Linked DNA regions of Homo sapiens. The protein of the gene in region 1 purifies or fractionates together with the protein of each later gene. This does not show direct contact. Each region holds a gene or a part of one and is shown in the gene's direction. Other genes may lie near its edges.

The links.
Region 2: the proteins of SALL1 (region 1) and SALL3 purify together in Homo sapiens (affinity purification with mass spectrometry; one large-scale study listed by BioGRID and IntAct). This does not show direct contact.
Region 3: the proteins of SALL1 (region 1) and GRHL1 purify together in Homo sapiens (co-immunoprecipitation; one large-scale study listed by IntAct). This does not show direct contact.
Region 4: the proteins of SALL1 (region 1) and FOXP1 purify together in Homo sapiens (affinity purification with mass spectrometry; one large-scale study listed by BioGRID and IntAct). This does not show direct contact.
Region 5: the proteins of SALL1 (region 1) and ADD2 purify together in Homo sapiens (affinity purification with mass spectrometry; one large-scale study listed by BioGRID and IntAct). This does not show direct contact.

Annotation. Positions count from the first base shown.
Region 1 is NC_000016.10:51,143,693-51,149,841, reverse strand, and holds part of SALL1 (sal-like protein 1), read left to right. Parts: intron 1-6,149. UniProt on the Homo sapiens protein: Transcriptional repressor involved in organogenesis. Plays an essential role in ureteric bud invasion during kidney development.
Region 2 is NC_000018.10:78,976,895-78,983,783, forward strand, and holds the start of SALL3 (sal-like protein 3), read left to right. Parts: upstream 1-2,923; 5' UTR 2,924-3,380; coding exon 3,381-3,462; intron 3,463-6,889. UniProt on the Homo sapiens protein: Probable transcription factor.
Region 3 is NC_000002.12:9,963,615-9,969,763, forward strand, and holds part of GRHL1 (grainyhead-like protein 1 homolog), read left to right. Parts: intron 1-271; coding exon 272-428; intron 429-620; coding exon 621-732; intron 733-1,672; coding exon 1,673-1,767; intron 1,768-6,149. UniProt on the Homo sapiens protein: Transcription factor involved in epithelial development. Binds directly to the consensus DNA sequence 5'-AACCGGTT-3'.
Region 4 is NC_000003.12:70,952,572-70,958,741, reverse strand, and holds the end of FOXP1 (forkhead box protein P1), read left to right. Parts: 3' UTR 1-4,034; downstream 4,035-6,170. UniProt on the Homo sapiens protein: Transcriptional repressor. Can act with CTBP1 to synergistically repress transcription but CTPBP1 is not essential. Plays an important role in the specification and differentiation of lung epithelium.
Region 5 is NC_000002.12:70,760,330-70,766,478, reverse strand, and holds part of ADD2 (beta-adducin), read left to right. Parts: intron 1-6,149. UniProt on the Homo sapiens protein: Membrane-cytoskeleton-associated protein that promotes the assembly of the spectrin-actin network. Binds to the erythrocyte membrane receptor SLC2A1/GLUT1 and may therefore provide a link between the spectrin cytoskeleton to the plasma membrane.

The DNA of each region.
Region 1 (6,149 bases):
GGCACCTCAGCCCACTAAGCTGCGGCCGCCCGGGCCCCCAGGTCCCCGGCTCGTTTCCCAGAGGCCTGCCTCTCGGTAGAGCTGGGGCACAGTGAAGCGAAGGGACCCCCGCTCCCTTTACCCCTGATGTCGGGAAAGGGGAATCCTGACTTGGGGTCCCTGTAAAAAAATGGAGGACTTGAAATTAATTAAGAAATGCTTTACAATAGCCCTCCTCCCGGCCCCCAGTGTTTCCTCAAGCTTGAATCCTTACCCACGGCCTCTGCGATTTCTCAGTCCGCTGAAAAGAGCCCCTGAACCCCGCTTTCCACCCCAAGCGAAAGCGAGCACGCGGGGTAGATGGAGGTGAGATGACCCAAGGCCGCAGCAGCTGCGCCGAGTATTTTTCCGGGTTTTCTCAGCTTAGTTTCTTCTGCTTCCCGCAGTCACACTCATCTTTCCTAAAGTTTCTGGTGAGACCTTTTGCACCGGAAAACTGTTCAGGTTAACAGTTTGTACACAAAAAAGCAAACTAGAGATAAGAGAGCATTATATAGTGTGTTTTGTAAATTTGTACTGGTTTTCTACATTTAAAAAAAAAAAGTCTCGGCCTTCGAGGAGAAATGATGCGTGGAAGATCTTTGCCTTTTGCCTTCAGTATCAGGAATTTTTAATAGTTAAGTCTTCTCATAAAGCAATAATATAAAAGGAGTTCACTACCTCTTACCATTATTCTTTATTAGTACTATTTTTTTCAATTTAGTTTATTTGAGCTTTGAGGTAAGTTAAGTAACTCAATCAAGTTTCCTTTCTTTCTCTTTTCTCTCCTTCTTTTGATTTCTTTCTCTTCCTTCCTTTCTTTTTTCTTCGCAAAAGCTGGTACATTGTCCTAAAGAAGCAGTAAACTGTTAGGGGCTCCCTAGGAAACACCCCCTCCCAGCCTTCTTTCCTCACCTCTCCCCACCCCCTCCTCTTTTTCTTCAGTAGTAATGGTTTTAGGTTATGACTGTTTTTACATGGTTGAACAATAAGTTTGGGAGAAGTTGCCTAGAGGGTAGATTTTGTAATAGGGTTTCAGGATTTAGTGTGTTGTAATAATATTAGTACACAAGTAATCCTCCCCCAACGCTGGACATACAGGAGGGCCTAACATACTCCAGTTCTTTTATTTGGGAGTAGTTCTGAAATAAATGGCATTGAAAGTTCATGACATAACTCAAGGTTACCTTTTAAAAGTCACCTTTTCTGCAGTGAGTTCAGCAATCTCATTCTTCTCCCCACATATAACCCATACTTCTAGGAGTAGCTGGATTTTCTGTTTTGTTTTGTTTTTTACGTAAAGAAACATTGTTATATTTTTAGAAGGCAAGCCCCTTTTCAAACATTCTGATTACTTTTTCTTATGTCTTGAGATGGTCTTTGAAATATGACAAATGAAATATGAAACATACCAAATTAAATCTAGTTCATGCACTTCTCATTTATCAGCACCTCAGATTGTATGACTTCTACCCAGAGTGAGACCTAGAAAAGTTTGTAGACCTAAGTTACAGGAGCCCTAAAGAAGCAGCTCCCAAAGCTGAAAGCAGCTAGGGCTGCTTGGTGTTGTGTGTCCTGCCTGTGTGTGTTTGAGTGTGTGTGTGCTTACAAAGAAAATCCAGACCATGCTAAGGAGCCACACAGACAGCTTCATCTGAAGCAAATGCAAACAAAATACAAAAACAAAAACAAAAATGAGTATTTGGTCGATTTCAGGATGCTGGTATTTTATTTTACTTTAGTGTACAGCTGCTATGCCAGAAACACTCTAAACTTGGTAATTTTTCTGCTTCTTATGAAACCAAGATTATGGCAAATATGACTTGTCTCCTAAATGATATTCAACAAGTCTTGAATTACTTGCAGAAAGATGACTGCTACTGGAAAGACTGTTTATCAAGTTAAATAATTCTGAGGAAAGGGAATATTACAATCTAATGATTTTATATGTGGGCTCTTTACTACAAATTGGGATTTCAGTTATGTGTTTTGTGTGCGTAAGTGCATGTGTGCATGTGTGTGTGTGTGTGTGTGTGTGTGTGTTGGAGTTCTTCCTTTGGTGGCGTTTTTAAGATTCCTGTAACTTCTACATGGATGGCCCATTTAGACTCCATTCATTTATTTAAAAAGTATTTTGGTGCTCAGTTTTTTCAAGGAAAAGATAATATTGGAAGAATGAAACACCATGAATTGCAGATAAAACACTAACAATCATATGAAGTATCATAAAAATTCCTCTTATTTATATTAATAATGAAATTCTATTATTTAACCGAAGTAATTTGCTCATTTTGAGCAGCTTCATAGCAACACATTGATCTCTGGGCCCAAAAGGTTAGCGAGAACTGTAATTAATTGCTTTTTTTAAAAAAAACCAACACCTGCAAGATAAGGCAGTTGGAAAGAATTCATGTTTAATCAGAGCTGTTTTAAGTTTGTCATAATGGAAGATTCTGAATGAGAAAATGCAAACTGTTTTTTTTGTGATTTGCTTCAGGCCACACATACTTTGTAAAATATTAAAAAACAAACACATAAATGAGCAAAGTCTAGTTAGGCATGAGGGTAGTATGTGTGAAAGTGAATATGTGATACTGAATGTTTTGTGGTTTATTTTACATCACATTTCCCCTAGAGTTCATTGGCACAAGTGCCAACGTATAGGTTCTTCTTTGGGGGCTCTATTTGTTTTCTTTATACTTTTGGAGGTAGCAAGTTGTCTTTACCAACAGAACCTTTTAGAAGGTAGAACTCCACATTTTTATGGTGGAGATCTTACTGGGGCAGAAATAGGCAGACTGGTTAAGTTTTTGAAATTGTCAAAAGCCAAGCTCTGTGTAGGAACTAGAATAAACTCCTTCTACAACCTCAACTAGGTTTTTCTGAGACACTTCTTGGTGCAGATAGCACCAGAATATTCCAAAAATATTCTTAGATTATTAAAACTGAAGTAGTTTGGCAAAAGAGGTGGAAAGTTAACCAAAGAACTAACACCCCTCCCCCCAAAAAAGAAAAAAGTTTATGTGCCAGGCTTTAGAAAACCTAGATGTGTCAAGCTGTTTTAACCTTTGCTAGCCTCCTCCCATGCAAAGGTGACAAGGTCCAGATCATAATATGTCCTTCAGTATCTTCCCAGTGACCCCCAAATTGAATCCTGCTAGTCACTTAGCAGGAAGTTAGTAGTTTATTTTAGTTTCACCTTATCAGCTTGGCGTCTTTTCCTAACCTTATTCCCCTGTCACCCTCAGATGCCAGACCCCCAAAGGGGAAGATTGACAGGTAGTTCCCATAGCTCAGTTTTACCCTCAAACAACAGGGATTTAGTTTCTTGTGCCTTTGCCAATGTTTATGTAGTCAAAGTTTAGATCTCGCCTTAAGGAGTCTCTTTTTTACGCGTCACTGCAATAGGAAAGCCACAAAGAAGTTTTTGAACAAACCCTTGCAACTGGAACCCCATCTAGTGTTCAGTTTGATTCATCCATGGGAAAGACATTTTCCCCTTTCATTTATTGTGTACATTAGGTGGGCTTGGATCACTATTTTAAAAGCAACGCCTCGTCCATGTTGTTATTTTTTCAGAGATTTCACTTGTATTCTTCCACAAGAGAATACTCTAATCCCCGTCAGAACAGTGAGTGAACTTGAAGGGTACCAGGAAATTTGTCATTTGGTGGCATATCACATAGAGGAAACTTTAGACATCACAGAAAATATGCACAGCATATGTCGTAGTGTTTAAAATTTCTTTGGAATCCTAAGTTGGATTCAGACTTTTCCATTTGGATTCAGACTTTTCCCAGGTCGATGCAGAAAAAAAAAAAAAGAAAAAGAAAAAAAAAAAAAAGACCAATCAATCAAATATGTTTGTGATAAAAAAAGGAACAGGCTGTTAAAATTAAGGACTCCTAAACCACTATCATGAGAAATTCTATTAGGGAGTGTAAATGCAATCTTAAGATAATGGGAAGTACAGTGAAGTGTCTTTCTGAAGAGCTCCAAAAAAGAAAACTAAACCTAGTAGAGTAAGGTGGTTGCATTTGTTTTTTGTTTTGTTTTTTCCCTTCCTGGCTGGCTAAACCTTTCTGTGTGGGACATAGTTTTATTTTTATTTTCTCAGTAGACAGATATGGTAGAACACTTCAATTTTCTGCTTCCGACTCTGCAGTTTGGTTCAGATGATGAAAAACTGACAAATTTGAATTAGGCATCAGGTACCTAAATAGTACAACAGGAACTAAAGCATCTGGGATTTTAGTATAAATTTGGTGGAGGTATAAGATCACTCTTCCCGCCCCCCCAACAAAAGGCCCAGAAAATTCCAAATATCTGTTTGTGTGCACATACTTAGAAAACCACTGCTTCTTAAATTTTGCTATCTGACTAGGGTTGCTTACAAAATAATCTGTATGCAAAATCCATAGAAAAGGAACAGGAATGTTATTTTCACCATAGTACAAGGAACAAGGCAACTGTATTTACTATAATGGGGTCACCAGTTGCAATCTTGTGTAACAGATTACTGAGAGAGATACAAGATAGCAGACAATCAGAAAAATTAATTATAACATGTTCGTGTGTACGTGTGTGTGTGTGTGTGTGTGTGTGTATGTGTGTGTGAGAGAGAGAATGTGTGTGTATGTGTGTGTGTGTATCTTACTACAAATTAAAATATTCCCTTTGGTAAAGAGTCCAACTAGTCCTCATGTTTTGTCTTTTTTTTTTTTTAAGTAAAAGACTGTTTCCTTGGAATTTTGTTCCGAATGCAGATAGATTTCAAGTTAAGAATTATTGCAGTGTAGCGACACCTGCTTTTGAAATAAATCAAAATAGATACCAGTATTTTGGGGATGTGGGGGTGTTCATAAACATCAGGAAATTAAATTAGTTCACTCTACAGTGAGATCAAATGTCAGCTTATTAAAAATGTTGTGAAAACCTAAGCTAAAATATGGACAACTTTTTAACACAGTCTCTTAAAAGCAAGCAGGCATTTGCATTTATTTTTAAACATCTATATTTTCCATCCAGTTAGCACAATCCTAAATATAAAAATGTTTAGATTGAAAAACTTGAAAATTCTCAAGTGAGTCTCGAGGCAGCACAAATGCAGAATTTGAGTGCAGGAAAGTAATAATCAGCTAAATCCTGTAAAGTAACCTTCCTTTTATTTTCTCTGTATATTATGAGAATATCAGATGTTTGCAAGTTATAAAGAATTAAAATCTCTTTTAATCGTGAGCACAGATGTGCTAAATATTTGAAGCAACTACATTGTAATGTGTACAATTGATGAAGTCAGTTTTCTGATTTCCCTTGCTAGTTATTTAGTTCTGAATCTGTCATTATTTGTCTAAGCCCAGCTGACCAAGCAAAACTGTGTTTTAAAGTGGCTTTATGTTTTGATAAATGTGAGCTGGTTGAAAAGTATTTTCCACTGAATGCAGAGCTTAATAGAACATGCTGACATAATAGTTTTAATGCATTTTGTTGAAAATGTGTGAACAAACAGAATAGCTTTTGTTCCTTCATAATTGGCTGTAAAAGTAGATGGAAACATAACCATTACATATGGAAATGTGCAAAGAGAAAGAAATAACATTTCTGTTGAATATATTAGGAATTGCATTTCCTAGTTTAAAATAAGCATCTGAAATGGATGCATCATTTAAAATTGATTGTCAAAATAAGAAGCTTTAAAGAGAATTTTTGTCACATTATTTTTGTCCCAAGTTAAGCAATATAACTTCAGCAAATTTCATCTAATATTTTGTTTATATGATTTTAAGGCAGGGGAGAAGCAGAAAGGGCTTAAAACAGCACCTTCCATGTGCATAGGAATCCAGTGCCAATTAGAATGCTTAAACATTAAATTAAAACCAAATCATTATTGGTATTTTCTGCTGCAACTAAGATTTGTTTGGTGGTGTTAATGCATCTTGCACTATGCCCTTGTGGAGATTAAAAGATGGGTATTAGGAAAGCTAGCTTGTTAAGTATAACTTAGCTACTCAAATAACACTCCCAGTGAATAAAGTGTGCGTACGTTTGGCATACTTCACCAGGGATTCTAATCAACTTCGGCATCACTCAAGGCAAATAGAGTTAAGGAATTTCCAGAAGTTAGTATTTAG
Region 2 (6,889 bases), on another chromosome or scaffold:
AGGAAGAAAGGCGGGAACAAGCCAGTCAAGAAGTCGCACGCCTTTTGTTTTCTACCTTTGCTTTCTTAAAAAATTGATCTTGTTCACTTGTCAATTTTTAAAAGGGTGCACCGCAGAAATTACTCGTGCGCACCATTTCCGCTGTGGGGGCATTCGTACAAGTTTCCGCTGCACACACAGCCTCCCGGGCCCTCTCCTCCAAGGCTCTGCCGGATCTTCCAACGAAATCCCAGAGCAGCCTGCGCTGGGGAGCCCGCAAGTCTCTCCAGATCTCTGCACCCCGCACCGCCCGGAATCTGGGACGGCGCCCACGCAGGGCTGGGCCAAGGGCAGAGCTCGCACCCTGCCTTCACGCCCGGTTCACTTGCGTCCACGAAAGCAGCGTGCCGGCCTCCTCCATCTTCCCACTCGCGCAACGCACGGCGACCCGCGCGACACTTCTGCAATCTGAAGGCTTGCTTCTTACAAATAAAGGGCCAGAGTCTCACACTTGCCTTCGTTGGAGGGACTTAGAAGATCCTCCCCACGTCCACACCTTGTAGGAAATGCAAAACAGATCGATGAAATTAAACAGTTGCATTTGGAAGCCCCAGAAAGACCTAAAGACATCGTGCCGGTTTGTTGGAGAGAGGGTTGCGGGACAGGGGGAGCGGGCCTTACGCAACAGAAAAGGTGGGCACAGCGCGCTCAAAATGACCCAGTGAGGAGTTGGTGCCGCCGGGCCAGAGGCTGCGAGTCCAGCTGGCTCTGGACTTGCTCCGCAGGCGTCAGACGCCGTGGGAACCTGTGTCTGCTTCTTCTCTCCAAAGTGTATCGGTTAAAAAAAAATAAAAGTAGTAGTAGTAGTAGTGGTAAGGAAAAAAATAAAAATAAAAAGGAGACACAATTAACCAGGTCATAAAAGCTAGGGCACCTTCGACCAGGGCTCTGGCCCTCCAGCGATCGTTTTGCGTTGTTTCTCTTCTCAAAAGTAGTCTCAGACCCCTGCCTTTCCGCTGCAGCTCTGCGACTTCCCCAAACTCCTTAATCCTGTAAATTCTGCAAGAAACTCCCATCCTGCAAGCTGCTTTTCCCCCTCCCCCCTGCGTTCCTTTTTTCTCTCCCCACCCGCGCCGCCTCTCTATGCCCCTCTCTTCTCAGAAAAATTCCTGCCCCCCGCGCGCCCCAAAGCCCGGGCTGCAAACTTTTCCCCGCCGGGCGCCTCTGCGCCAGATGCCGGAGCGTCTCCACAAAGCCTGAGCATCTGCACAAGTTCGCAGCCTAACTGCGGGATAAAGACGTTTCCCCCGTAGCTTAACTAGAAAAGCGCCATCGATGGGTGTGTTAAACGGGATAACTAGAGATTTCAAACACCTTTTATTTGCCTGTCTTGAAAAAAAAATCTAAATGAATACGCCCGCTACCAAAAGGCAAAATAAAACCAACCTTAAGGGTTTTTGTTGTTTTTTTTTTTTTTCAAAAGTGGCGATAGGGACTGTTTGGACCTGACTCCAACCTGCGCCCTCCCTTCCTCTATGACCCTCCTGCGCTTTTCCTGGAACCCAAAGCTCTGACTTCGTCAAACTTACACAATTAAAGGCAGGCGGAAGAACGCGGGCTGGGAAGCAAGCGGGAAGATTCTAGAATGGAAGGGAGCCCGCCGAGCGCCGCGAGCCGCGCCAGGCCGGGTCCGATGGAGCAGGCGGGGATTCCTCCCCCAGGCGGACCCCCGCCACCAGCCCTGCCGGGAGCTCGCGGCCTGCGGAGCGCCCGGGCTGGCCGCTCACCGCCCGCTTCCCCCAGCGAACGACTCGGGGAAGCTCCAGGAGGCCATCTGTGCTGACGGTTCACACCAGACAGGACCACTTGCAAGGACAAAAATAAGAAATTTAGGAAACGAAAAAAGACGTACTGGGGCGAGGGGCGCGGGCGCGGCGACGACGGGGCCGGGGGCACATCCTGGCGGCCGCTCGGGGAGAGAGGACACGCGCGGGAAGGAGCGCGGCGGGTGCACGGCCGCGGGTGGGAGTACGCGCCTGTGCGCGCGGGGCGAGGGCGAGGGCGCGTGCGTGTGACCGCGGGGAGGGGGCGGGCGCGTGTGCGGGGAGCGCGCCGCGCCAGGGGCCGAGTGTGTGGGGCCGATCCAGAAGTGCGCAGCCCCCTCACCTGGCCCCCGTGTCATCCCCGAAATCCCGGGAAAGGGTGGGCCGCGCGCGGGAGTTTGGTGGAGTTGGAACTTTCGGTCGCGCTCGCTGCCCACTCCGCTGGCGCCCGGTGGCCCGTGGTGAAGGGGGACTAGGGTGGGGAACACCGGGGCCCTGCGGTCCCCTCCCTTTCCTGTATTTAAGAAGCCGCCGGCGGCGCAGAGGCCCAGGCGGGCTGGCGCGGGGGCGAGGCGGCCCGGTGGCAGCAGCGGGCGGGGCGGGCGCTCCGGAGTCGGTGGGGCCCGCGGGTTGGGGGGCGGGGAGAGGGGGGAGTGGAAGGGAGGGGGAACGCAGGGGAGGGAGAGGAGGGGAGGAGCCGCGCGGCCCGCGCCGCTTCCGAACCGGAAAGTTGGTCTTGCCGAAGTCCTGCCACCCCGGCGTGCGCACTCCGCTCCGCTCCGGCCGCGAGCCTCCGAGCCCGGCCGGCCGCCGGGGGAAGCCCGCGGAGGGGACGCGGGGCCGGGCGAGAAGGTCCGGAGAGCGGGGGGCACCTGAGCCCGGGCGGGCCCGCCGCGCTGAGCGGCGCTGAGAGCCGCGGCGGAGCAGCGAAGGCGGCCGGCCGACCCCGCGCGCCCGGAACAGGAGGCGCGGCGCCCGAGCGGCCCGGGCGAGACAAAGGCGCCGGGTCGGAGCCCTGCCCGCGGCCGCTCGCTCCGGGAGGGGCCGCCCGGCGGCGGCGGCGGGGGGGGCGCGGGCGGCGGCGCAGACACTCTATAAAGGGGCGAGCCCGGCGCGCCGGCGGAGACGGCGCCGCGCGGACGCCGCCAAAGTTTGCTGCCTGCGCCCTGCGGAGGGACGGCCACCGCGGCCCGCGCCGCACCCGGGCCCCGCCACAGCCGCACCCGGGGCGGCCGAGGAGCGCGGCGCCGGAGCCCGCGATGTGAGGCGGCGCCGGGCAGCGCGCGCCCCGGTCCCGAGGCGCCGCGGCCCCCTCCTCGTCGGCGCGGCCGCTAATTGCGAGCGCGGCCTCATTTGCATAGGCCGCCGGAGTCCGCTGGAGCCCGGCCAATCGGCGCGGCCCTCCGCTAATGGCCATGCATTATTCACCAGCCTAATTGCTCAGCCCCATGCGCGGCCCGCGCAGCCGCCGCCGCCCCGCGCCCCGCGCCGCGCGCCCGCCAGGCCGCCCCGCGCCGTCCCCGCCGGCCGCCCCGCTGATGCCGCTGCCCCGCGCGGGGCCCGAGCGCCGCTAGCAGCATGTCTCGGCGCAAGCAGGCCAAGCCCCAGCACCTCAAGTCGGACGAGGAGCTGCTGCCGCCTGACGGGGCTCCCGAGCACGGTGAGGGCCGGGGCTGCGGGGTGGCCGGGGGGTCTGGGGCTGCCCGTCCGGGCTGGGGAAGCGCGTGCGGCGGGAGCGGATGCGCGCGTCCGGGAGCGGGAGAAAGTTCCCTGCTTCCTGCGGGCAAGCGTCCGCCCCGCGCCAGGCCGGCCGCGGGGCCCCGGGTACTTCGCCGGAGCGCGCGCGGCCGCCGAGAGAGTTGTGGGCGAAGTAAACTTGGCTCCTCTCCTCGGAGTCGGGGAGCTGCCCGCGAAGGGCGCCGAGGCCGCGGCCGGCTCGAGGACGGCTCGGAGGCCGGGGCGGGAGGGAGTCCACGGTGCCTCCGCCGCCGCGCCGCCCCCCAGGGTCTCTGCGCCAGGACGCTGAGGCCGGCGGCGGCGGGGAAGGCGACCGCAGCCCACCTACCGCTGGACGCGGGTTGGGGACCCCGCCGCCCGGCCAGCTTTGTTCGGGGGCCCGCGGCCCCTCCCGGGCCCCCGCACCGCCTCGGGTGACCCGCGGTGTCCCAGCGCGTTGACGCAGCCTGTGATCCCTCGCGAGGCGAGGAGAAGGTCGGGGGCTTGGCTCTGCCTAATGGCCGCCCGGGGAATTAAGCTGGGGGTGAGCGCAGCGGCGGCGGCCTGGGCCTGGCCCCTGCTCGCGGCGTGTTTCCGGGGCGTTCGTTGCAGCGTCTGCGCGGGCCTTTTCTCTCCCGTCTTTTTGGATCCGCCGAGGCCGGGCGCTGGAGACCTCGGCTTTGCAGTCATTTCGCTGGTAGGAGCGTCCTCTTCGAAACATCCAAGAGCAAAGGGCAGGCGCCGCGAAAGTTAAGAGACTGGCAAAGGGCTGGACTTCCCAGAGTGGCGCCTTAGCCCCGCAAAGTTTGGGGCGCCCCCACCCCCTTCGTCGAGTCAAAACCTCGGCCGGCGGCGCCCGGGCTTCGGCGCGCCCCGCGGGGCCCCCAGGGCGCCAGGAAAGAGGGCCGAGGAGGGGCGACCCCACGACCCCGAGCCCGCAGCACAGCTCGCAGTAAAATAATTTGCTCCTTAAAAAAACAGGCAGGCCAACTTTTATGATTGACCTGTTATAAGTTGTTGGAGGCAGATGGTGATCTTTTTACTCTGAGAATGAGACTGTCTGCGAAAAGGAAACGGGGCGGAAGAGTTTCCCACACAGTGGAGTAAAGTTTGACAAAGCGGGTAGACACCCATGTCGGATGAGAACGAGAGAGCATGCTTATGACGCGGCTGGAGAATTAATGAATTAAATAAAATTAGTGAGCTCGCTGGGGTCTTTTTGTTGCGGTGGAGGTAAGGGAGTCTTATCTGTGTAGCCAAGTCAGCCAAGATGAGAACAGGCGATATGCTAAAAAGAAACGCTTGCATATGGTGGGTAGATTAAGGACAAAGAATCTTTTTGTCATGGAAATGGATTTTTTTTTGTTTTGTTTACTTCATCACATAGAATTTCTCACACTTGGTTTGTTTTGTATCGCCCTCAATGACTACATGATCAAATGAATGGATTTATTTCTGCCGAATGAGAAAGACAGTCTTTCCTTCAAAAGAACTACATTGCGTCCCAGTGAGGAATTTTAAAGCTTTATTATTGTGGCTCCTGAATGGCTTAAAATCGGCTTTCACAGCCGCCCCAAAATGCAACAATGTAAATACTTCTCAGCTTTGTAGGGTCGGTATCAAAATGTGCGATGTCTCCTTTTATTAAAGCATATTTTAATTAATAGAGTAAACCCCCTGGTATTTAACAATTAACAAGCTGAGGCACTGCTATTCATTTTTAATTTCACTTCAGAAATGTGAGCATGCTGAACTTAATAGTGTAAACGTGTGGAGGGCTATATCGCCTATATTTGAAAGCCTAAGATGGGATAAATTATTCACAAGTTCTACTTTGAATCCCTCTTGTTGCTGCTCGAATTTATTTAGAGATGCAAAATATTCAGGTTTTTTACCCGTGGTAGAATTGAAGTTCTTGTCAAGCCTGTGTTTTTCACAGCATCCAGAATTGTAATCCAGACGTTGCCACAGTTCCTGGTCATGTTTTGCAAGAGGCCCAAAATACCCTGTGTGGGGCCGAGTCTTGGTCGAGCAGCTCACATGCTTGTTTGAGAGAGTTTAGGCAAACTATTTTTTTTAAGTTCTTTCTCATTTAATTATATTCGAAGCAGCTTGTTCAAGGAGCATAACAGACACTCTGTTCCGTGTTAAGTCAAGGAATGCCCCATTTGTGTATTACTCGGTCGCACTCAGCATCGTTCCTAAGATAACTAAGTAAAAATTATAAAAAGGTAAATGGGTGTGGAAACCAAATTACTCCAACCTGAGTCAGATCTCCTCAAAATTTTAATTTTGTTAAATGCAATGGAAATAAACAGACCGTGCCGGAAGTTGCAAGTGAGCTCAGTTAGTTTAGTGTTTTAGAAACGAGGTAAATAATTCCTTTGTATCACTCGGGGAGTGACATATTAATTAAAGCAGCAGGTCCATCTACATGCAGTAAAATGGAAAGCTACTGATAATGTCCTGCAGAACAAATATTCTATGCAAAAATGTTTAGTATAATGGGGGACAGAGATGCACTCACATTAATTTACAGCACAAAGCCTGTATCTCTTAAAAAAGAATTATGATTTATTTTTGAAGCAATGAAAAGATTCTATACAAAAATAACTGGTGCTACCCAAACCTTACCACTACAGGAATGAAACATGACGTGTCTAGAATGAGAAAAAGTAAGGATAATTTATGTAAAGTTCTAAAGTCATGCTTTTGTTAAAAAAAAAAATTAAGTCATTGAGACATTCCTAACAGAAATTGCTTTTTAAAATTACTTACTTGCAAATGATCTCATTCCTATTTTAGAAGAAAGGCGCTGCAGCTTTAGGATCCAGTGAACTTTGCGCCACTAGTAATCCTGTGAGCCAGCTGAATATTTTTGTTCTAAGAAAAATTAATTAAAACTTCCAATGACAGTTATATGCCCACTAAGAACTTTAAAAGATACAATACTGCTATTCTTTATTGTATAAAATATAATTTAAGAAAGATGTATTTTGTTGTTGTTAGAAAATATGTATTTAAGAAGGAACAAAAGGGTATTATAATTTAAAACCATTTACCATCCTGTATTTTGTTTGTTAGCACTAATTGCTTCAAAGTGTGTTTTTTTTTCTGCCAACTTAGAAGTATATGGCTGTCTTAAAAATCCTTTTAAATGTGTTGAGCATGTGATTTAAGAATTTACCAGTGGTTTTCACAGACTGTGTTTGAATTAAGGGAAAGAAGCTCGGCCACCAGTGCTTGGCGCAGGATCTTTTTCTTTTATCTGTATATGCATGGTTTGCCCTCAGTGCTCCCCCAGCACACTACACACATTTACAATTCAGCATACCAAAAGGAACAATGCAGGAGCTACTTTCTAACATTCA
Region 3 (6,149 bases), on another chromosome or scaffold:
CCTTCCAAAGTCCTTTCCACCTATCAGTATCTTTAATATCTCGAGCCCTCAAACTCAGGATGTCCGATTACTGACATCCATCACATCATAGAATTTTTAATCGGCAATTTGTACTTCCACCTCTGAGAGACTTGAGAATTTTTAGCTGCTGAGTACTTTTGTTTCAGATTTTCTTTAAGTGAAAAAGATAGCAAATGCTATTTATAATATGATGTATAGCAAGCTTCCACGAGAGTAGATTTAGAGACCTGTGACTTTTTTTGTCCTTTAGGAACAACTTTGAATATACCCTAGAAGCTTCAAAATCACTTCGACAGAAGCCAGGAGACAGTACCATGACGTACCTGAACAAAGGCCAGTTCTATCCCATCACCTTGAAGGAGGTGAGCAGCAGTGAAGGAATCCATCATCCCATCAGCAAAGTTCGAGTAAGTTCTGCTCTTAGTCCTGTTCTCTAGGAAAGCTAGTCAGAGCCTAACATTTCCAGGTCTGAAGCAGCTCTGAATGACCGCCTGAAATTGCAGCTTTAAGCCTTCACTGTAAAATATAGTACTAAATACGTTTTCCAAAACATACTCACCCTTTAGTGTCTTTATGTTGTAATGCATTCTCTTTCACAGAGTGTGATCATGGTGGTTTTTGCTGAAGACAAAAGCAGAGAAGATCAGTTAAGGCATTGGAAGTACTGGCACTCCCGGCAGCACACCGCTAAACAAAGATGCATTGACATAGGTAAGCAGCTCAAGAGCCCGCTTTTATTCCCAGAGGTGCAGCCATCCAGTTTTCTAAATCCAATTATTTTTGGCAGTGATCAGCTTCCTGCCGAAAGCATTTGAATTTTTATGCCAGCTACTGATCTGTTCCAAACACTGTCCTCGGCCTCCTGGAACCAGTGCTCTCACCATTGCTCCCATGCAGTAATGGGACATGTGCCCACGTGGTGGCTTTCCACAGGACACTAGGGCCAGAAGCCATGTAGCTGGCTAACCTGAGAATGTCCCCACTGTTCAGTCTGCAATTGCTTTAAGGGGTAATATCTTCTTTAAAAGATTCTGATTATTATTTGGAGATGATGGAGGTAGAGAAAAAAACAAGTAAAAGAAAGATATTGCTGCTGTGCAGTTGCCTAACAGTCTTCCCTAGTCACGTGCTAAACCGTGTAACTAACCTCTCTGTGGGCTGTAGTGGCAAACCTGTGCAAATCTGTATTTACTGAAGTAGCGTTACACAGACCTCTGTTCTTGCCATGTATGTAATTTTCATGTAAAACCATTGTCTGTATCACAGATGGCTGTTTAATATTAGTGTTACTTTTTTTCTTTACCTTTTGTAATGCTCTTGTTTCCTTTTCAGGAGAATGAGAACTCAGTTCTAATCTTGGTTCTACAGAGTAGTTTTGTGACCTTGGGACTGTTATTTAAACTTTTTAGACTTAAATTTCCTAATTGTGACATAATGAGATTGAATTAAATATGTCTAAGCTTGCCTCTATTACAAAAACTCTGTGATTCTTTTTCTTCGTATTTTGAACTTCTTCTAATCGAACAAAATGTTAATTTAAATTGTCCAGAGGTGATAATGCTAAAAACTAGATCTTATTTTGAACTGCTGGGATCCCATGTTGAAACTAAGACTCATGAGTTTTCATTTTCTCTTCCACCGCTTCCTGTAGCTGACTATAAAGAAAGCTTCAACACTATCAGTAACATCGAGGAGATTGCGTATAACGCCATTTCCTTCACATGGGACATCAACGATGAAGCAAAGGTGGGTGGTGAGGTCTGGGCGCCTTATGTCCAGCCATTTGAGAAATGGGAGGAGTTTAATGATTTGACAACTGATTTTTTTTTTTTTCACAGTTTTATGTGTTTCATTCTCAGGTGTTATGAAACTATCCTCTTCCCTTTTTATTCTCCCCTCCTCCAAAACAGATCATTTTTGTTGCCATCCTTTGCACAGAGTCCAGTGTGTGAAACATTGAGATTAAGTTGCACTCTGCCACTCCTGCCTGTTCAGCCTTGAGTCTGACTCCTCATTTGCTTTGCCTCATTTCCTCATTTGCACAGTGGAGGTGATATCTGTCTCCTCCCTCTATTGAAGGAGGTGTAAGGAGTAATGAAACAATGCCCATCAAACTGTTGGAGTGGCTTTGAGAAAGGCTCTTAAATATAAGTGATTATTAGTAGTACTCTGTTTCATATCATCACCTTGTAAATATGACTCTGTGTTAAGATTCTTCTGTCTTGGGCTTTTCCCATTGAAGAGTTGCCTCCAGTTCAGTTGGAGTAACTCTAATTGGCTAGAGTTACTCCTTGTGGGCGACTCTAATGGGAATTTTTGTGCCCTTGAAGAAAAATTCAGCATATTCCTAAGTCCTTTCTGCCTTGCCCCTGCCTTCTTCCCTGTGAGTGTGATCCTTCTCCACTCAATTATTAGAGTTCCTGTATTTCTTTCTTTCTTTGGATTACTTTAAAAACTGGGAGCTCAAGAAACTGAATAGAGGCCAGAAGTGGTGGCTCACACTTGTAATCCCAGCACTTTGGGAGGCTGCGGCGGGTGGGTCACTTGAGGCCAGGAGTTTGAGACCAGCCTGGCCAACATGGTGAAACCCTGTCTCTACTAAAAATACAAAAAGTAGCCAGGCGTGGTGGCACACGCTTCTAATCCCAGCTACTCTGGAGGTTGAGGCAGGAGAATCGCTTGAACCCGGGAGACGGGGGTTACAGTGAGCTGAGATCACGCCACTGCACTCCAGCCTAGGCAACAGAGTGAGACCCTGTCCCCCCCAAAAAAAAGAAAAAAAAAACTCAATAGAAACATAGGTGATTTTTCAGACAGTTGTTAACAGAAGACTGATCTTTAGTTTTCCTTACAATATTAGGTATAGCATTCTCTCAGAGACCTGGTAGAAAGAAGTGATGTTCATCTTCTTGTCCTTTCTCAGTCTCTGTTTTTTACTTTTTCTTTTATTTATTCAATAAGAATTTTAGTAACTTTTAGAATAAGACACTGTATTAGGTGCTGACTATTAGGGTTTCATTTTATCCTGCCCCAGAATGCTTTTGAAAATCATGTGACTGGGTCTTGAGAGCCATGTTCTGCTTGTATTATAATTGCTTTTCTTTCTTATCGTTGTCATCATGTCCAAGACAAACATGTGCCTTTCAGGCTGCAGACTCTAGGCAGTTGGGCCCACCAGGCAGTGAGGAAGCTTTAGGTGATTGTGGCTTTAGAAGGGTTTTCCTGCCAACCACCTCAGTCACATACAATTGTCAGGTGGCTGCATAGTCCGGAGTTTGTTGCTTGGCTAAGCAATAAATAGAGAAACTTTCCATTTTATATAATTGTTGTTACAGTTGTTTTGAAATTAAATATCATAATAGGACTCAGTCCACTGGCTACTACGAACAGCCTATGAAAAGTATTGGCCTTGTGCCCCAGGATGCTTTTATTCTTAAAGCAAACTGGAGTGTTACTTGCTGTTTGCCATTGGGGCCTCACTGAGAAATTGTGGAGGAGGCGATAAAGAGCCCATAAGTCCTGAGTTCCCTTTTCCAACTTATCCATGACCTTGGGTTAGTCCCTCAGTTCACTAGCTCAGTCCTTTCCCCTTGATCCCCCAGGAGAGTCACGAGGTTAGAGTGGCCAGCTCTTCTTCGTTGGGTGTGGTCAGGATTAATAAGCGCTTGTCATAGGCTTGGAGATCTTGGCCGAAAGGCCCAGCGCATGGGCAGGGCGCTTTGTTTGTTTGATGTGTCACTCTTTGGGGTGGGAGTAATGAAAGCCAAGATGACGGGTAGGGATAATGGCTTGTTTTATTCTGAAGGCCTGCAGCATATTTGTATTAGAAATATTGTTGGAGGAGTGGCTTAAGTAGCCTTAATAGCATTGCTAATTGATGTAGGTAAACTCAGTTTCATTTCCCCTTTCAGACCCCCAGCACTGACGTGATTTTAAGCCTTTGCCTGCCGCCAGAAGGGTGTTGTGCCATTTCTTAATGAGGCTGCTGTCTTTTTGAAGCTGATATCAGGCAGCAACTTCAAGCATGTGTTCTAATTAAGTATCGAGGTTTTTTGCTTTCCCTGGCCAACTTGATGTTTTCTGTTTTTATTCTTAAAGTAATTAATGCCTCAGGGCAGCAAGAGTGAACAAGTGTACATGCAGAATCCTGTATAGTTGGTTTTTTTTTTTACTGTTTTCTGAAAATATCTACTTTCTTTGCCCACTTTCTTGTTCTCATTTAGGATGCATTTGTTGATTTCTTTTTTTAATTGTAAGATTTATACTTGGCACATAATAATTGTACATATTTATGTGGTATTTGTTAATATGATTTCCAGTTCTTTCTCCCTCACAAACATAAGGGTTTATTGGAGCTATGTGGCATTTCCTCCCCTCCCCTTTTAGTGATCTCTAATGTACCCTTTTGGCCATGCCAGGATGAGTAAAACTGAAAATCTGTCAACATCTGAATCTTACCTGTAGCTTCTGCTTCTCCGTTTGGAAATGATGATAGTTTGAGGATGTTTTGGGTTGAATTGTGAATGCTTTGGCTTACATTCCACTTTGGGAAAAACACTGACGAAGCTAGGACCTATCTTACACTGGCCCTGTGTGCACTCCATTCATCACCATAAACATATGTCTGCCATTGTCATGGAAACTTTCGGAAGTTTTGGAACTTGTGAAAATTTGTTCGTTTTCAAAGTGGTGGAAGAGAAGGAAGTTGCTTTTTGAAAAGCAGAAATGTCTCAGAAACAGGCCCTTAGTGGGATTTGTCTGCTGTGTAGACGTATTTCATTCCTTTTATTGTCCTTCCACAAAATTAGATTTGTTTGGGTAGTTAAGAGTCAGAGGTCTCTGGACAGGTTAAAGGCCATGAGGCGTTCACATTTCATTGTGAAATAATCAGTATTCTTCCTGATGCACAGCTGAGATTAGCTGCTTGAGGTAATTTTTGCAGAGAGAAGAAGCAATTGCCTTTGAAGCATTAAAAGATGGAGCTTTGGTAAGATGCTGAAGTTTAGGATTTGCAGGACAAGATGAGGGCACTGGTCTCCTGCAGAAGAGAGGCCTAGGAGCTGAGGGGAGGGGTGCATACAGCGAGATGGGAGAAAGATACACATAGACTCAGCTGGATCAACATTTTCTCTGGAGCCAGCGATGCAGCTTTGCAGGAATTCAGAACTGAGCCCAGCACATATCCGAGAGCCTGCTGTGGACAAGGCGTGGGCTGGATCTAGGCTCCTGCCACTAGTTCCGCAGGCCAGGTAGATAGTGGCATAAGTGTCCCCATTTGTGGGGACAGCCTGAGATCTTAAATATGACATCATGTTTTCTTAGGAAAAATGTTTTTATCCCACTTTAAAAATGAACTTTGGGAACGCAATTTATAAATTGGGGCTATTTGTTCTGCAACAATTTCAGTATTTCCAAAACAAGCGAGTTTAGAATAGGCTGAACTGAATGGACTGCGCATCTTGGCCTAGAGTGTAATTTCTTGCCTGAGTTGTAAATCTTAAGAGTCTACAACAGCATTGAGATTTGCTGAGTGATAAGAAGCAAGGGCCTCTCGAAGCCTGAAGATCTAAAATAAACAGAGGAAAAAGAAGTTAGGGAGAGAGAATTAACTTCTTTGAATGCCTGTTATATGCTAGGTGCTGTGCTAAGGTGCCTCACCTATGTCCATAGTTAGTGGGGCATGGCTGCCTGCCCAGCACCCATAAAAAGCACCCAGTACTCCATGCTATTACGTGCTTGGTGCTTGGACATCCAAATGAGGCCTTCTGAGGAAGCTAAACTCTAGACCTTGAAATGGATAGAAAACATTCTTGACAGGGAAGATTACTTAAAAATGTAGGTATTACTATTAATAGAGCAACATTATGGACTCACTAATATAAATAAGAACACCTTTGCTAGTAAGAAATAATTTATGTTGGATTATATTATAACGTTTGAGTTGGATGAGTAACATTTAAGCACAGAGGAGAAATTATAAACTAAAAAGCTGCTGTATTGGAATCCAGTGAAAACCAGCCAGCTCTGAGGGAGGCCTGTGAGCCAGTAGGCACTAAAGGAGGGGATGTCTGGGGGTGGTGTAGGGACACCTTTGAGAGAGTCAGCTACCCAGTATGGCAGATGGGAAA
Region 4 (6,170 bases), on another chromosome or scaffold:
TTTTGCTTCCAGTTGGGATGGGGAAGGCCTTTGTGTGTGTATTGGGGGGAGGGGTTAAAAAATAATTATCCCAAACTTTTTAATGTATTGCTTTTTTTTTTTTTTTTTTTCCTTCTACTATACCATTTTAAGTTCTGACCTCAGGCCTCCATTTGGGCCGATGGCCTCTTGGAGGCTTAAAGTTTTCTGTACCTTGTGATGAATGTTAATAGGTGTTTTTATTATACAAAGCTGAATGTCATTTCTCGTTTGTAGCTTTCTGTCACTCATTCCATCTTCCTTCAGACATCACCACGTTTCTCTAAAGTCAGAAAACATTCCGTTTTGGTCTTTTTCAAAAAGGTCCCAAATGCTGCACTCTACACATGAAGGCCCTCTCACACAGACGTGACGTCCTGCCAGAAAGAGAATGAATGACAGAAAAAAAAAAGAGAGACAAACTCTAGGAACAATGCCGATTCATTCCACGCAGCAGTATTGGGGGTGGTTCGGGGGAGGGGTGTTTCGGATTTTCTTTTTTTCTTTTCTTTTCTTTTTTTTTTTTTGCAGCAACCATTAATAAATGCCACCACATTCTACCAGCACAAGGAAACATAGGCAGCACTGAAAAAAAAAAAAAAGCTCATATTAATTAGACTGACAATATGGCCTTGGAAGGCTCTCCCTTGTGGAACCAAGTTGCCATGGGCCTTGGGTGCTCTGCGATAACGGGTGTGGGTTGGTTTTGTTTGCAAAATGGCCAAAAAAAAAAACCGGCTTCCCCGAGCAGCTGCCCTGAAAGTAGGGGTGGCGGCGGCGGCGCTGAGTTTATACATTAGTTCAGACCTACTTGGTGGCATTAAACTGTTTGAATGCAAATTCGATTTCAGATTGAACTTGTTAAGGGAGTTAACGAGGGCTGAGTTCAGCAAATGCTAAAGTGTTAATTTCAAATATGCAAATTTGGTACTGCAGTTTGTTATGCAATATTATATCACCAACCCAGTATCACAAAAACTCATAGAAGATATCATGTAGGCCCTGGGCTTTGGGGGGGTCCCAAACATGGTATGCAGAAATGTGATGGTTACAGGTCAGTACAACCTCAGTCCTTAGAACCCCTCCACACTTCAGCTCTGCACCCACTTTCCTGTCATTTATTTATATAGGACTGTAGTTTTTTTTAGTTCGAGAGCCTTTCGAAGCTTAATTTATATTCTTTCTTTGTACCTTTTTTCTAAAATTACCAAAGATATTACACAAAGGTAAATTATGTTCTCTGTTTTATGCTTTATCTGATGAAGCCAAATATCCTCTTATTGTTGATCAAAGGAGGCAAAAGAATTTAGAGGCAAATGACAAGCGATAGGCTATTGCAACCTGAGAAAGAGAACTGCTCCTTCATCGTAAATTTAGAAGACCAAGTAGATAATGGAACCAAAGTTGTTACTTTTTTCTAGTAGTTATTTTTCCTTTTTCTTTTTGTGTACCTCTACAGAGACCAAAACTCATTCTCTTAAAGAGATTTTATGGGGCTACTGCAGATAAAAATAGGACACAATATTAAAGGAGCTACAGAAGGAAGGGAGTCCCATCTCAAAAAAAAAATGAATGTATGCCACTGCAATTAGAGTATCCAATAAAGGAGACAGTTTAGAGTCAGGACAGAAAAGCTTCCATAATTGAACTAGATTACATAATAGTATTTCTAGAAAAAGAGATATTTTTAGATTGTATGCCACTTTTGTTTAAGAACTGTGCTGTGATCACTGTATTAATTTTGGTTTATCTTGGCATATATCCTTCAGTTTGTTTTTATTTTTAATTTTTCCTTTTTTTCCGATTAGGCTTTGGTCAGCATTTTTCATTTAAAGAAAAGTAACACTCCCATCCACTCATAAGCTTGGTACAAAAACTTCTCTGGCAGTTACTTTTGAAGCTTCACTCTGCTTTCTGTATAAAGGGCAGTCTGTGGTCACGCAAGACTTTAAAAAAAAAAAAAAAAAAAAAAAAAAAAAAAAAAAAAAAAACTTTTCCAGGCAGCTTCATGATGTGCAGGCAGTAGCCAGACAGGGTCATGGGAAGGGGGCCCTGTGCTTCTAAACTGAGTGGTTGCTGGTTAGTTTGGTATTCAAAAGAGGATAAAAATCTGGTAGATTAGTTCATTCTCAGCATGTGTAGCTAGACATGAGTAAAGATAACAGCATGAGAAACTGTTAGTACGCATACCTCAGTTCAAACCTTTAGGGAATGATTAAAATTTAAAAAAAAAACATTTCACTCAGTTGCACTTAGTCGTATGTCTTGCATGCTTAGTCTAAAGACTGTAGCAAAAAAAAAAAAAAAAGAAAAATTAGATTTTACATATCTTTGCAGGTATCACAGCCTTGCAGAAGAACCAACTGAAAAAAAAATTCTCAGGCTTTACAGCAAGCAAACTTCACTATGATTTTTACAATTCTGATTCTGTATCCCCTGGGGGTTATCCCAGTTGCTTCTTTAGGATGGGGTTTATTACGTTGTACATATATCCCGATGTGTCTGTGTGAATCTTTGTCTTTTTTGGGGGAGGGCAGAGGGCGGTTCTTTTTTTAGATATTGTTCCTAAAAAGGAATAAATGCATACACCTGTTTGTCAAAACACCTTTGCTTTTTGTGCAACTGCTTTATATTAACGATACTAAAAAAAAATAGCTTTGGAAAAAAAACTACTGTATGTAACGGAATTGCAGAATATGCTGCACATGTATTTTATTTAGTTATCCTTGCTTTAAGAATATTGGATGACATTTCCTGACATGTGGGAGGGAGAAACTCCCTAACTTTTTTTTTCTGCTTTTAAACTGTAACATAGTTGAAGATTTCTTTTTTCTGTTCTCATTGATTGGAGCATTTTGTACAGGTTTTGTGTGTGTGTGTGTGTGTGTGTGCGCGCGTGCGTGTGTGTTAATCTGTTTTTTGATACATTCCTATCCCTTGTGTTTATCCTACCACTGCCTTCCTGGCTATCTTAAACAAGTTCATACATTTGAAAAGAAAAAAAAATGTTGTTTAAAAAATGTTTTCTCCTGCTGCAGTAAATATTTTGCATGATGAAATTCCAGGGTCACACTTTTCCAAGTTTATCAGTGAAGTAGTGATTAACAATGGGGAGTGTCAAAACTATTGAACTTTTGTATAAAAAAAAAAAAACTTTACAAGGTGCCAAGATGTAAAGAAAATCTGTTACTTTTTTTTTCTCAAAGAAAAGCATACATTAGGGAGGTAGTCCCGTGTGTCAGACAAATGCACTGTCAGGAATGAGGATCCAACCTACCTGTCCCTAGAGTCCGTCTTGTAAGATGAGTTAGGCTGCCCCTTGGACCAGCCACAAAATGGAATATCAAGGCTTATGTACATACGTGAAGAGTTACCACCAGTCCTGCCACCTTTGGACAGCTCTAACACCATCCCCAGCATCCAGTCAGACCTAGTAAAGAAAACCTTGGATTCTTAACCCAAGATAGGCTGTAAATCACTAGCTTTTTTTTCCTCATGAAAAAAAATAGAGTTAAAAAATATTTCCTCTCTTTTCCATATTCCAGCTGAACTCCGTTTCCAAAGGCACAAAGAAGAGTGTGCTTATTCAGATTTTGAATCTTTTTGGTACCTTTTGGTTAATGACATAGCCTCCTGAAATTCTGGATGTCTTCAAAGTCAGTTTTGCTTCTTTATCCTGAAAATCAGATTTACAATGCTGAAGGCATTTCTTGGGCCCAGTGTAGCTCACGCAATCTCTGCTACCCATAAGCCTTGATGAAGATGATACAGTCCGGACTGTGAGCATGGTGCTTCATGTATATGTGCTGCCAGTAACAAGAATTTTTTTGTTTTGTTTTGTTTTGTTTTGATAAGGCATAAAAGAAACTCATTCCTTGACATCAACTGTAATTCCATCATTCCATGTCTGCGGATACAGACAATAAAAAAAATGTTGTGTAGTCAGTACTAATTACTGACATTATAAGCATTCTCAAATGCAATAAAAATGCTGGTTGTTCACGCTGGTAGTAAAAGTTGCCACAGCCTAAGTTTGTTTCCCTTTCTGACCTGCTGATATTGTATGTTAGGCATATGCCTTAGGTTTATCACCAGCTGCTTCCAATGCAGAATTAAAATCAATCTTAAAGCTTTCATGATCAGGGAAGGCTGAAGCTCTTATCCTCAGGATTTCCAAGTGAAAGTATCCACTTAGAGAATTGGGAAGTAAAAAAAAAAGAGCAAGAGATGTTATCTTTTCTCTTGAGGAAGCACACTCTTATTTTTTTCATCAAATTTTATAAAGAAAAACAAAATGTTTAATAACTAGCATTAAGAGCAAACTAAAATTTCAGAGGAAAGCAATTTCATGAATAATTCATTAAAATTTCACATCTGCAAGATTAGTCATCCAAATAAAATGCTAATGTCAAAAACATGCACCGTCTATAATATTCTCATCAAGAAATCTTTTTGCATATAATGATAAATGCTTAGATTAGAACAAATGATTTTATAAAAATATTCTATCAAAAGTATGCTAGATAATTGCATTCATTGAAGAAAACAGAACTTCAGTACCTAAATATTCCAGAAAAACCATCTTAATTTTGAGATTTTAAAAAAATAATTAGATGCATTTAGGAAATGTGCTGTTTCTTTTTAATATTACTCTATAGTATATATTCTAGGGATTAATGAATTTGAGCATCACCTTTCAATAAAAAATTAAATTGCCAATATGAAAGCAGTATTTTAAGTGGCCAAACCGTGGTAACATAAAACCATTACATATATAATTCAGAGCACATAATTCAGGGCAAAGGATGACTTGAAAATTAACCTCCCAGTCTTTATTCTGCAAAACACCCACCGATGCTGAGGATACAAGTGAACATTCTTTCCCAGCATTGTTTTGAAAAGCCCATATTAGCAAAGTTGTGTGTGTGTGTCTGTGTGTGTGTTTTTAACAAGTAGATTTTGCTATTAAGTTGCAAACTAGTGTCCTCTTTGAATTAACAATTATGCCCTATCTAGAAACCCCTTAGTCTCAATAATTAGCAAAACATTTGAACCTTTAATTCTCACCTGGCTACTGAGACTATAATCTTAGGGTTAATTCAAATTCCTGTAATTACCAGGCTTAAACCTAAATACTGCTTACAGCCTATACATTAGTAAAATTTAAAAATGTACAGATACTTCTTTTAATAAACTGGAGGACCTAAACCAAGTATGACGATATGTTAGTGAAGATTTTGCTGGTTGAGGCATAGTACATTTTAACTTATATTTCAGGAATTGTTCTCAAGCAGGAACACTCTTTTACATATTTATTTCAGGCTTGTCACTCTCATAAACGAGGCAGCAAACCCAAAATATTGGCTCTTCTTATAAATAGGCGCCTTTATATAAAGAACATAAAACTCTTAAGACTAATTTCACACCAACACAGGCAGCTTCATAATAGTAACCACCTCTCCCTCCCCACTAAAAAAGATAAAAACAAAGTATAATTAGTCTTTCTTATTAGATTTTTGTCTTTGATGATATTACGTATTTATGTGTAGGGTAGTAATCACAATTTATCCTTCATCTTCATTGTAGTTGAATCAAATAAAAGTATTCTTTATTCAAATAATGTGAAGTTGGGTGTCTCAAACCTTCATTTAATGAATTGATGAAAGGTTTAAGACAAAATTCACGTTGGAGGGAAATTAAGTTACATACAAAAACACTGGTTTTAACTGTGGGACAATATTTGGATTAGAAAACCATCTCTAGATATAACCTACTTATATTTATTTTTAAATGGTATTTTATTTTTTAAAATAACAAAACCCAATGTTGTCTTATTTCCACTTTGATTGTAAAATGACATTCAATGCTTAATACCAAAATATATATATATATACACATTTGAAATTATCAACGGTCCTTTTTTTTTGGTTTATATTGAAAATATTGTGAAGGGAAAAAGACAAGCTTCAAGTTATAATGTTAATTTGAAGGTAACCGGCCTTTCAAGAATTAATTTCAGCCAAAGCAATAATCATTATTTACCAGCGTGTGACATTTTTATCACTCATCATATTAGCAAATTTCCATTGAAAATGCTAAAATGGTTCGTCATAAGGCAGATAACTGCTCGAGCTGTAAAAATGACCAACACA
Region 5 (6,149 bases), on another chromosome or scaffold:
ATATCTCCATTAGCATATGAATAATATATGTTAGAGACTTAAAAGGGGGGTTTAGACCATTTAATATTTTTACTTTATAAGGTTCTACTTTAATTGTGTAATGTGATCAAACTTTTCTCTGTAGAGACTTTTCTCCTATAGATCAGGATCTTGCCCAGCCTTTCTTCCCTACTCCTCCCTGCATAGGGCACAAGTAAAAGCAAAGTTTTCATTATTGGTATGATGTCAACACATTTTGAAAAACCACTAAAGATAAATTATTCTTTGATCCAAAATCCATAAGAATTTTGTAGTAAGCCCTATGTTCTTTCTTGTCCACCAAATTGCCTAGCCTTATTAGAAATATGCTTGTCATATACACAATGTACAACAATGCCTGACATGATATGCTGTGGTTTCTAGGCTTGGATTGAATTTGTTTTAAATATTAGTATAGTGTTGGAATTAGCAAATCTCAGCTATTCTTAAGGTTAACAGTTGAGCAAATGTGTTTGCTGGCAGTGGGTTTAGTGTTAAGATTTTAAATATATATAAAAAAGACTAGTAGATATATTTATTTATTACCACCTCTTCCACAAGGGATTTAAGATAGTTTACAGGGATTCATAAATATGGCAAGGCAGCCTAACTTGGAAGTAGTTGGGAAAGAAAAAAGGACACTAAGGGTGGAGTCATAAAATGGTCTTAAGCGTGAGGCTGATACAAAAACATGAGCATGAGACCTTCTACAATGGCTACGGGCAGGAAACAAAAACAGCTCTAAACTTTCTTGCAGCATAAGCAAAAAAGAAATTGACGAACCCATGGCTTATATGTTTTATTTATTTGTTAAACTCATTCACACACTTCTTCACTCAACAAACATTCAGTGAGGACTTACTACGTGCCAGGTTCTGTAAGACGTACTGGGAACAAAGGGATAAAGCAGATAGACGTGGTCTGTGTCTAATGGGCGCTTAAAGACAAATGCAAGAAATGGACACTCATCAAGAAATCTCTCAAATGAATATATAATTACAAATTGTGATAACAGCTATGTGGGAAAAACACAAAACACAAAACATTATATGGCCAGAACATAAAAACACAACAATTCTTTTTTATTTTTTATGTTTTATATTTTTTTGAGACACAATCTCATTCTGTTGCCCAGGCTGGAGCGCAGTGGCATGATCTCGGCTCACTGCAACCTCCACCTCCTGGCTTCAAGTGATTCTCACGCCTCAGCCTCCCGAATAGCTGGGACTACAGGTGCGTGTCACCACGCCCGGCTAATTTTTGCATTTTTAGTAGAGACGGGGTTTCGCCATGTTGGCCAGGCTGGTCTCAAATCCTTGGCCTCAAGCGATCCACCTGCCTCTGCCTACCAGAGTGCTGGGATTACAAGTGTGAGCCACTTTGCCCAACCAACAGTTCTTGATTCCGAGACCAGAAAGGAACTTTTTCCTAATGTGACATAGTGTTTGAAATGATGCCTTCGATCACCTCCTCATCAGACACAAGGACAAGTTTCATAGGGTTGTTTTTCACAATGGCCCTCAGCATGAGCTAATGATATCATGCCACAGGTCTCTCAGCCCCCTGGGGTTCTGAAGATATACGTATTTTGAAAGATCTGTGTATTCTCTGACATTAGTGGTTTTATTCCAGTGATAATCTTTTTTGCGGAATCTTGCTCTGTCACCCAGACTGTTTGAGTAGGGATCTTGCTCTGTTACCCAGGCTGGAATGCAGTGGCATGATCATAGTTCCCTGTAGCCGGGACCTCCTGGGCTCAAGCGATCCTCCCACCTCTCCCTCCTGAGTAGCTGTGACTACAGGCATGAGCCACTATGCCTGGCCTATTCCAGTGATAATCATAAATAATTAGCAGTAAAAATGTGTTCTGGATCATCTTGATGGCAAGGCTGAAACTGATGCTGGAGTCTGCGTTTGCCTTTGTATCTTTCCATTTGAGCCATGGGCAGGCCTGGTGGCTCCAGCCACAGCCTGGGTGAAGGGAAGGGGAGTTGGAATAGTGGAGAGAGTGAGTCTACACAGGACACACACAACTTGCCAACTCCAAAAGAACAGCTCCTGGCGACCACTGCTCTATTGGCAGGGATTGAAGATCTCACGCCAGTTCATCTTTGTATGGATCAAGTTTGCAGCAATTTATTAGCAGCAGATGTAGTAAAAACACAACAGAAAAGTTGCTGTTGTGGATTTTAACAATATTTGAATTAGATCTTCATTTAATGCATATTTAGTAACTCTCCAATAGGTACCTTACATCTAAGAAAATGAGATGGGGCCGGGCGCGGTGGCTCACGCCTGTAATTCCAGCACTTTGGGAGGCCGAGGCAGGTGGATCACCTGAGGTCAGGAGTTCGAGACCAGCATGACCAACATAGTGAAACCCCATCTCTACTAAAAATACAAAAATTAGCTGAGCATGGTGGTGGGCAACTGTAATCTCAGCTACTCGGGAGGCTGAGGCAGGAGAATCACTTGAATCCTGGAGGCAGAGGTTGCAGTGAGCCGAGATCACACCACTGCACTCCAGCCTGGGCAACAGAGCGAGACTCCAACTCAAAAAAAAAAAGAAAAGAAAATGAGATGGGTAATTTGTTCTGATGGTTAAGTGACACCAGACTGTCTGACTTCAAAAATTATTTTTCTACTTACTAGCTGTGAGAGTTTAGGCAAGTTATTCAACCTCTCTCCTGCTCAATTTCCTATAATAATATAGGAATAAATATATGGCATTGATTGCATGGTGATATTATAAGAATGAGTTGTTACATGTGAAAGACTTACCTATTGCAATAAATTAATTTTATTACTTTGATATTTTAAAGTGGATAGTTGTATTTGTACATTGTTTTGGCATTTTAATAATATAAAAGCTGTAAAGCATAGGTGTTTAGAACTGGTATTTATGAGTATACATATTTAAGTTACATTTTAATAAAAGTGACTTAGGTCAACCATGAGGTCATGAGAAATTTTTTCTGCCAAAAGGGATGTTTATATAGTTTAAGCATTTTGAACTATGTACAGGGACACACACAGATTCTTGGAATAGAAATTTGAATCTTTAGAAGAGATTGCAGCCACAATATTTGACTCCACATACATTGGCTGCTACAATTTTAGCCTGAAAGAATTTTAAAGCAATAATATGAAAAACTGCCTGTCTTCAATGACAACCACCACCAAATCTTCCAAACTCGAAGAGCACTCATGGAATGGCAGGCTTTTAGTAAAGATTTCATCCCGGTCTGTCTTCCAAGATAAACTACATAGGAAAGCTTTGCCAATGTTACTGAAAGAGATGAAGAGAAAGTGTATCCTCTGTGGAGTCTAAACTTCAGTTGTATAGATTTAAATGAGTTTATTGATTATGTTATTCAAATTTATTTTAAACTTTTCTTTGTACCTAAGTGATCTGTCAAAGAATACAAAAGATGTTAGTCTCAAATGATATTTTTGGCTGGGTGTGGTGGCTCACGCCTGTAATCCCAGCACTTTGGGAGGCCGAGGCAGGTGGATCACCTGAGGTCAGGAGTTCCAGACCAGCCTGGCCAACATGGTGAAACCTCGTCTCTACTAAAAATACAAAAATTAGCTGGGTGTGGTGGTGGGCGCCTCTAATCCCAGCTATTCCAGAGGCTGTGGCAGGAGAATTGCTTGAACCCGGGAGGCGGAGGTTGCAGTGAGCCGAGATCACACCATTGCACTCCAGCCTGGGCAACAAGAATGAAACTCCATCTCCAAAAAAAAAAAAAAGAAAATGAAATTTTTGACCGCTTTCCTTTTGCTATGTCCTTTAGCATGCCCTTTAAATCCATATAATATAGTTATATTTATATATTTATTTGATATATAATTATGTAATTATATATATAAACATGTATTTGTGTATATTTTATATGTTTTTACATAGTTATATTTGATGCTGTATTACTCAGGGCCCTGATTGCCCAGGACTGATGGGTTTTCTGGGATGAGGGATTTTCAGTGCTAAAGCTGGGACAGTGCCAGGCAAATGGGGATGACTGGTTATCCTCTGTGACACAAATGTTGTGACCCTTGACTCTCCATTGTGGGGTGAATCTTCCATATTTCCAGACCTGCTTTGTCTCATTGTATTTTTATTTTTGTCTTAAATTTTACTGTGTGATAAGAAATCTGGTCCTGCCTTCTTTCTGTTTCCATTTCCCTGGTGTGATGCTCATTCTCTTTCTTCTTAAGCTTTCTTCTTTTACGTCATTTTGATTTTTGTCTATTTTAAGCATCATAATTGGATTTTTAATCCAATTGTGACTCAATTTACATTTATTATATGTGATACAGTCACAGATCTTCTAAAATTTTATTTTACATTAAAAAAATTCCAAGCTATTTTTCCACCCCCTTTCTTAACTTAAATGTAGTGTAAGAGTCCCTTGTTCTTTAGATAAAAGGGAAATTTTCTGCCCATTTTTTTCTACTAGTCTTCATTAACATTAAAAAATATAGTTGTGTTGGCCAGGCGCGGTGGCTCACGCCTGTAATCCCAGCACTTCAGGAGGCCAGGGCGGGTAGATCGTGAGGTCAGGAGATCGGCCATCCTGGCTAATATGGTGAAACCCCGTCTGTACTAAAAATACAAAAAATTAGCCAGGCGTGGTGGCGGGCACCTGTAGTCCCAGCTACTCGGGAGGCTGAGGCAGGAGAATGGCATGAACCCGGGAGGCAGAGCTTGCAGTGAGCCGAGATTGCACCACTGCACTCCAGCCTGAGCAACAGAACGATACTCTGTCTCAAAAAAAAAAAAAGTTGTGTCTATTTGTTCTTTCATAAATAATGAGAGATTTAGTATACTTTAATTCCTTCCTTCCTTCCTTTTTTTTTTTTTTTTTTCTGTCACCCAGGCTGGAGTGCAGTGGTACAATCTCATCTCACTGCAACCTCTGTCTCCTGGGTTCAAGTGATTCTTGTGCCTCAGCCTCCTGAGTAGCTGGGATTACAGGCACCTGCCACCACGCCCGGCTAATTTTGTATTTTTAGTAGAGACCAGGTTTCACCATGTTGGCCAGGCAGGTCTCAAACTCCTGATCTCAGGTGATCCACCCACCTCGGCCTCCCAAAGTGCTGGGATTACAGGTGTAAGCCACTGTGCCCAGCTTTAATTTCTTTTTTGTTGCCCATCTACCCCCACTAACTTTTTGCCTTAAAAACATTTTGGCTTTTAGATCCAGATTATTGTCTTTAAAAAAAAAAAAAAGTAATGCATGCTTTTGCTTTCCAGAATTATTTTTGACATTTATGTTTCCTAACCATACTAACAGCTGCTATCTAGACTGAGAGTTACATAGGTTACAATACTCAGTCCATTTCCTATGCTCAATCTTCATTTTTACTTATTCCTTGATTAGTTGGAATCTTTTTCAGGAAAGATAGTATATTCCGGTAGTTCTTGCTTGCCTAAGAACTTCTTTATGTTGCTGTTTCACAGTAACATCATCCTTTTGGGGCATACACTTCTTCATCTTAATCTTTTTACCTAAAAACTCCAAATATTATTCTTTTGTCTTCTGGCATTTTGTATGATGGAAGATAAGTTGTGGCCAACTTTATCAAAATAACTATGAAAGTCCACAAAAGTTTTGTTTCTTTCCCTTGTAATGACTACTTTATTTAAAAAAACCTTAAAATATATAAAACATAACACAGATATAGGAAAGGACATGAAACAAATGTGCAGTTTAGTGAAATATTATAAAGTGAATGCCCGTGTGACCACCATGCAGGTCAAGAAGCAGGACACAGCCAGCTCCCAGAGCCCAGTGCACCCTTGAACCACACCCTGCTTCCCCCTGGAGGTAACAACTCACCTTCCTTTTATGGTAACCATTTTCTTGCTTGCTTTTATAATTTTATAATCTAAATTTGCATCCTCAAACAAAGTACATCAGACTTGTTTCTCTGAAACTTTAAAAAATTAGAACTGTACCATTTGTATCTTATTCATTGTTATAACATCTCCATGGTGACTACTTTGATGCTTCAAAAAATATATATCAAATTTATTCCAAGAATATTTGGAGCCCTACTTTGCTTGGTGCTCTAAATTGGGGAATCCAGCACAGCCAAGAAGGAAGTGGTTTGTGTAAGACAGTGGT